2 separate regions of the Homo sapiens genome follow, and region 1 is linked to region 2. Evidence: fine-mapped expression QTL. A gene starts in region 2. The other region holds a variant in brackets. All regions are shown on one strand. Distances are between the middles of the regions. Region 1 overlaps SLC38A10 (solute carrier family 38 member 10). Region 2 holds the start of SLC38A10 (solute carrier family 38 member 10).

Region 1 (2,897 bases), 47 kb after region 2:
ATCTGCATGGGTCTCAACAGGTGGGTGGCTTCGTGCCTTCTGCAGCCCAGTCCCCGTGGTCTTGGTGGGCTCTGGCTGTAGGAACAGCCTGTCTCCTCCACGGTGCTTCACATGTGTCCCACGTGGCTTCTGGCTGGACGTGGCATGGCTCCTTCCCCCCTCCCCCTCTTTTTTCCTCCTCTTCCTCTTCCTTCCTCCCTCCTCTTCCCTCCTCCCTCCTTCTCCCTCCTCTTCTCTCCTCCCTCCTCTTCCCTCCTCCCTCCTCTTCCCTCCCTCCTTCTCCCTCCCTCCTTCTCCCTCCTCTTCCCTCCCTCCTTCATCCTCCTCTTCCCTCCCTCCTGCTCCTCTTCCCTCCCTCCTCCTCCTCTTCCCTCCTTCCTCCTCTTCCCTCCTTCCTCCTCTTCCCTCCTTCCTCCTCTTCCCTCCTTCCTCCTCTTCCCTCCTTCCTCCTCCTCCCTCCTCCTCTTCCCCCACCTTCCTTCTCCCTCCTCCTCTTTCTCCCTCCCTCCTCCCCCTCCCCCTCCTCCCTTCTGTCTCCTCTTTCCTCCTCTTCCCAGCACCAGGCCCAGGGCTAGTCCTTTGAGGAGCAAGTGAGGCCATGGTGCCTGCTCTTTCGGAACCCTGCCCTGGAGTATGGGGAGGTGTCACCAGCACATGGGATCTCGTCCTTGTACCATTGACATTCCGTGGTTGAGCCCCGCAGCACCCAGGGCGAGCACGTGGCCCACGGCCGAGGTGGCTGGTCTGCCACCTGCACTTCCTCCTGTGAAAGGAGGTGTGCGGGAGACCTGCTCTGCCCGTCATGGCCTTTCCCTGCAGGCAGGCGTCTGGCCCGGGGTGCTAGCAGGGAGCAGGGGCTGCTGCTTGAGGGCCGGCCCCATGGCCCTGATCTCCTTGGAGCCAGCCCTGTCCCCCACATCCAGGGGTCTGGGCGAGGCCCAGGGCTGCGTTCCTGGGAGAATGCTGACCCTGCACTTCTCTGGCTGGTCATGGTGTCACCACTGGGGAGGCTGGGCCGGCACGTCAGTCTATGCCTGGCATGCAGGGCCGTCCCTGAGATATTTGCTCTCACCACTCACAAAACATCCTTCTCGCTCCTGGATTGAACTTTTATGCCTCACAGCCCTAACCCATCATTTTTCAAAGCTTCCTATAATAATTTGAAAACATCTTGTAAAAATGACATAAG[T/C]CACAGCCGCTTGCGGCAAATAACTGGCCAGTGTTGAAGCGAGTCAGACCGGGTGCTCCTGCACCAAGTGTGTGCCAGCCGTAACCCGGGCAGGCCTGTCCTCTGGCCCTTGCTGCAGGCACCAGCTCTTAACACGGGGTGCACTGGGGCTCCCCATCACGCAGGACCTGCCCAGAATTTCCACAGTGGATGGTGTTCAGGAGCGGTGGTTAGGATGGCTGGCGGGGGCCTCACTGACGCTCCAGCTCCCATGCTCCCCTTAGAAGACAGCTTTTGGCCGGGTGCGGTGGCTCATGCCTGTAATCCCAGCACTTTGCGAGGCTGAGGTGTGCGAATCACGAGGTCAGGAGATCAAGACCATCCTGGCTAACACGGTGAAACCCCATCTCTACTAAAAATACAAAACATTAGCCGGGCGCGGTGGCGGGCGTCTGTAGTCCCAGCTACTCGGGAGGCTGAGGCAGAAGAATGGCGTGAACCCGGGAGGCGGAGCTTGCAGTGAGCTGAGATCGCGCCACTGCACTCCAGCCTGGGTGACAGAGTGAGACTCCCGTCTCAAAAAAAAAAAAAAAAAAAAAAAAGACAGCTTTTGTTTGTTTTTAAAATTCTCATCTCGGAGGAAACTTTCTAGAAGTACCAATATTCTTTTCAAAACATAGCTTACAGTTTTTCTTTTCTTTTTTTCTTTTTTGAGACAGGGTCTTGCTCTGTTGCCCAGGCTGGAGTGCAGTGGTGTGATCACGGCTCACTGCAGCCTCGACCTCCTGGGCTCAAATGATCCTCTGGCCTCTGCCCCCCGAGTAGCTGGGAGTACAGACGCCTCTCACCATACCCTGATCATTTTTATTTTTTTGTTTTTTTTGTTTTTGTGGAGATGGGGGTCTTGCTATGTTTCCCAGGCTGGTCTCTAACTCCTGGGCTCAAGCGATCTGCCTGCCTCCGCCTCCCAAATTGCTGGGATTACAGGCGTGAGCCGCCGTGCCCAGGCTTATTTTCTTACGTGCTTGTCCTAGAACAACTGAATGTGTAAAGTGGAAAAAACAAAAACAAAACCCCACCCAGCCCAGATAACCATCTCTGACATTCTGGCACATTCCTTTTGACTGTTGCTCTGGACACTCACTTCCATGGGCAACGAGCAGGCTTGCTGGGGTCCTGCCGGGTGCGCCTGGGGCACAGCCAGTGGGAGAACTGATGCGGCACAGTGGCTGGCTGTGCGGGAGAGGCCATCCCGGGTGGGCTTCCAGGGGCAGTCAGGGCGCAGCCTCTCCCGGGCCCTCAGGCCTGCGTGCATCACTGAGCTGTCCGGGCTTCACGGTCACAGTCATGATGGGTGTCACCAGTGGCCAGTGTTCGGGCACACTCCCTGCAGGTGACCTGTGCGTTGCCTTGCTGTGGGCCGCGCCGTCCCTGGCCCAGCACGGTGCATGAGCAGCCCGGGCACTCTGACTGTGTGCTTTCCAAACCCAGAAGCTGGCAGGGCGGAGATGCTGGACCACGCCGTCCTGCTTCAGGTGATCAAAGAACAGCAGGTGCAGCAAAAGCGCTTGCTGGACCAGCAGGAGAAGCTGCTGGCGGTGATCGAGGAGCAGCACAAGGAGATCCACCAGCAGAGGCAGGAGGACGAGGAGGATAAACCCAGGCAGGGTAGGCCGGGCTGGCGGATGGAGTGGGGTGGGGCCAGGCAGGGGGTCTCCTGCTGTCCTCA
Region 2 (2,897 bases):
TTTGCTATTTGTGAAAACATACATGTAAATTGCCCAGCCTACCTCGCATGCATAACATTTGATGAAAATTACATAATAAAAAGGAGGTTATGGAATGTGTATGCCATTTCATTTATATAAAAGTAAATGGGCTGGGTGCGGTGGCTCATGCCTGTAATACCAGCACTTTGGGAGGCCGAGGTGGGCGGATCACCTGAGGTCGGGAGTTTGAGGCAAGCCTGGCCACCATGGTGAAACCTGGTCTCTACTAAAAATACAAAAATTAGCCGGGTGTGGTGGCGGGAGCCTGTAATTCCAGCTACTTGGGAGGCTGAGGCATGAGAATAGCTTGAACCTGGGAGGTGGAGGTTGCAGTGAGCCAAGATCACACCACTGCATATACAGCCTGGGCGACAGAGCAAGACTCTGACTGAAGAAAAAAAAAAAAAAGAACGCAGGCATTTGTTATTTTGCCTGCGTATTTAATTAGTCTTTACCCAGGCATTTCCTCCTGTTCTCCTGAAGGTGGGGCACAGCCTTACTTGGTGGCTGCACTGCCAGTGCCTGAGGAACGGGCCTCTGTTCTAAGACACCTGGTCCTGCAGGTGCTGCAGACACGGCCTCCTTTCCTCCGCCGTCCTCCCCCAGCAGCCTGGAATCACTTGCTGCTTCCCAGCCATTCGGTCTACGCGCTCATTCATTAGACTCAGAGTGAGCAGCTAGGTGCCAGGAATCCACAGATCTATCGGGACCCTTCTCTGTTCTCTCCTCTCCCCGGTCTCCATTTCTACCCGAGGAATTCTCATTTGTCCTTCAAGCTCCAGCCTAGAAGCCACCTCCTTCTGGAAGCCCTCCCGGGTTTCCCTGTTCATGTAAGCCTCCACCTCTCCTGTCCCCTCCAGGAATGTCCCTTGCTCTTTTCGTGTGAAAAGGTGAAGTTCAACATTGCCACTGATCTGGGCGCAGTTCGGCAGGGCACCGCCTCCCCTTGGAGCTGTGTGGCCTTAGCGGAGTGGCCGAGCCTCTCTGTGCCCAGCGTTTCATTCCTACCTCCTAGGTGCTAATTCCTCACAACAGACTATTTTTCGGCTGAGGCAGTCAGGGCCCCCGCCCCCGTGCCCTGGCGCCAAGCACTCGCCCCAGAATCGGTCCTGGGAATAAAGGTCAAAAAGGAACCCTTAAACCCGCTCCTCCCCGGAAGGCACAGCGCCTCCCCTTCTCTCCAGCCCGCGACTGCCCATCCAAACCGAGGCCTCGCGGGGCGAGTCCCTTGTCCTCCAGCTCGTTGAACTGGGGCCCCGGGCACAGGTCGGCTGGACCAGCTTGGCGAACCGGACAGCTGCGAGACCCTCAGGTGCCCACCGGCCCAGTTTCCGCCCGCCCCTCCGGGCCCGCCTCTCATTGGCTCGCGTCCCACCAAACCCTACCCCCTGGCCGTCACTTCCGGGCAACGGAGCCCGTGGAAGGCGGAAGTGTGAGCGCCGCGGCGGCAGCTGAGTTGGGCTGAGGTGTCCCTAGCTGGCTCTGCGGCTCTTCCGGGTCTGGGCTCGGAGATTCACAGGCGGCCCGCGAGGCCGAGCGAGGGACGCATGGCCCTGAGGCGGCCGCAGGGCTTGGCGGGGTCCGGAGGTTGACCTCGCCCCCGCAGCCGGCCTTCGAGGCTGCCTCCTCCAGGCAGCCTCTGGGGCCCGCGCCCGCGCCTGCTCAGGCTCCCGTGTTCAGGCTGCCCATCCCCTCCCCACCGGCGTCCCGGACGTTGGGACCTGTGACCGTGGCCTCGGGCTGGGCTTCCAAAGCCGGCCGCAGCCCGGCGACCCCCGAGGCCTCTCGCCCCGGGCCCCTAGACCTCTCACTATGACCGCGGCCGCCGCCTCCAACTGGGGGCTGATCACGAACATCGTGAACAGCATCGTAGGGGTCAGTGTCCTCACCATGCCCTTCTGCTTCAAACAGGTGAGTCCGGTGGGCCCGGAGATCACCGCCCTCGCCTCCCCCGCAGAGGGGGCGTCTGGCTGGGTCGTCCTGGTTAAAGTTCCCGCCGGGGCAGGGCTTCGCTGGGCGGGTGCAGGCGGCCGCGGGCGGGGCGACCCTCTGGGTCCCGGCGCAGTTCCCGTAGAGAATCCGTGGATGAGAAGCGCACGGCGTTGGCCCTGGCAGCCCTTGTCAGCCCGGGCCGGAAAGTTCCCCACACTCAAAAACTCGATACCGAAGCAAAGTGTAACAAAGCAAAATGATCCTCCAGAATCGGAAGGGAACGGTGGGACTCCGTATTTTTACATTTTATCGTGTTTTTAAAAACTCTGACCCAACTGCACCTGTCTTCAGAAGCACACAACTCACCACTCCCAGGCTTCGACACTAGATAGGGACCTTGGTTGCAAGGTGATTAAAAACATCCACCAGGTTATACACCTAAGATCTGCGTTTCACAAAAACCGCACATTTGGCAGGGGGTGGTGGCTCACACCTGTAATCCCAGCACTTTGGGAGGCCGAGGCGAGTGGATCACCTGAGGTCAGGAGTTCGAGAACTGCCTGACCAACATGCTGAAACCCCATCTCTACTGAAAATACAAAAATTAGCCGGGGGTGGTGGCACATGCCTGTAATCCCAGATACTTGGGAGGCTGAGACAGGAGAATAGCTTGAACCTGGGAGGCGAAGGTTTCAATGAGCCGAAGGTTGCAGTGAGCCGAGATCACGCCATTGCACTCCAGCCTGGGCGACAGAGGGAGACTCCGTCTCAAAAACAAAAACAAAAAACTGCACATTTGATCTAATGTGTGCAGACGTTACCACAGTTGGAAAAAATCTCAAATACAAAAAGTTTAGCGTCATTCCAGCATTGAATAACACATGAAAGAAAATGGCCATTTCTAAGTGTCATCTGTTTAATCTACAATAAACAAGCATTTAGTG

Evidence for each region. PIP is the estimated chance that this variant, and not a neighbour inherited with it, causes the effect.
Region 1: its variant is the best candidate, but not a certain one, in a credible set for the expression of SLC38A10 in whole blood (TOPMed, PIP 0.70).

What each region holds. Positions count from the first base shown.
Region 1 is chr17:81,246,824-81,249,720 of GRCh38, reverse strand. SLC38A10 (solute carrier family 38 member 10) reads left to right here. Exons shown (of 16, transcript NM_001037984.3): 15 at 2,660-2,836. Among named protein-coding and RNA genes, the nearest start is that of NDUFAF8, 9.0 kb to the right of the region's middle. The variant T/C (reference allele first, on the strand shown) is at 1,190.
Region 2 is chr17:81,293,858-81,296,754 of GRCh38, reverse strand. SLC38A10 (solute carrier family 38 member 10) reads left to right here and starts at 1,448. Exons shown (of 16, transcript NM_001037984.3): 1 at 1,448-1,932. The coding sequence starts at 1,834. RefSeq lists an enhancer at 783-872 and silencers at 1,533-1,802, 1,903-1,972.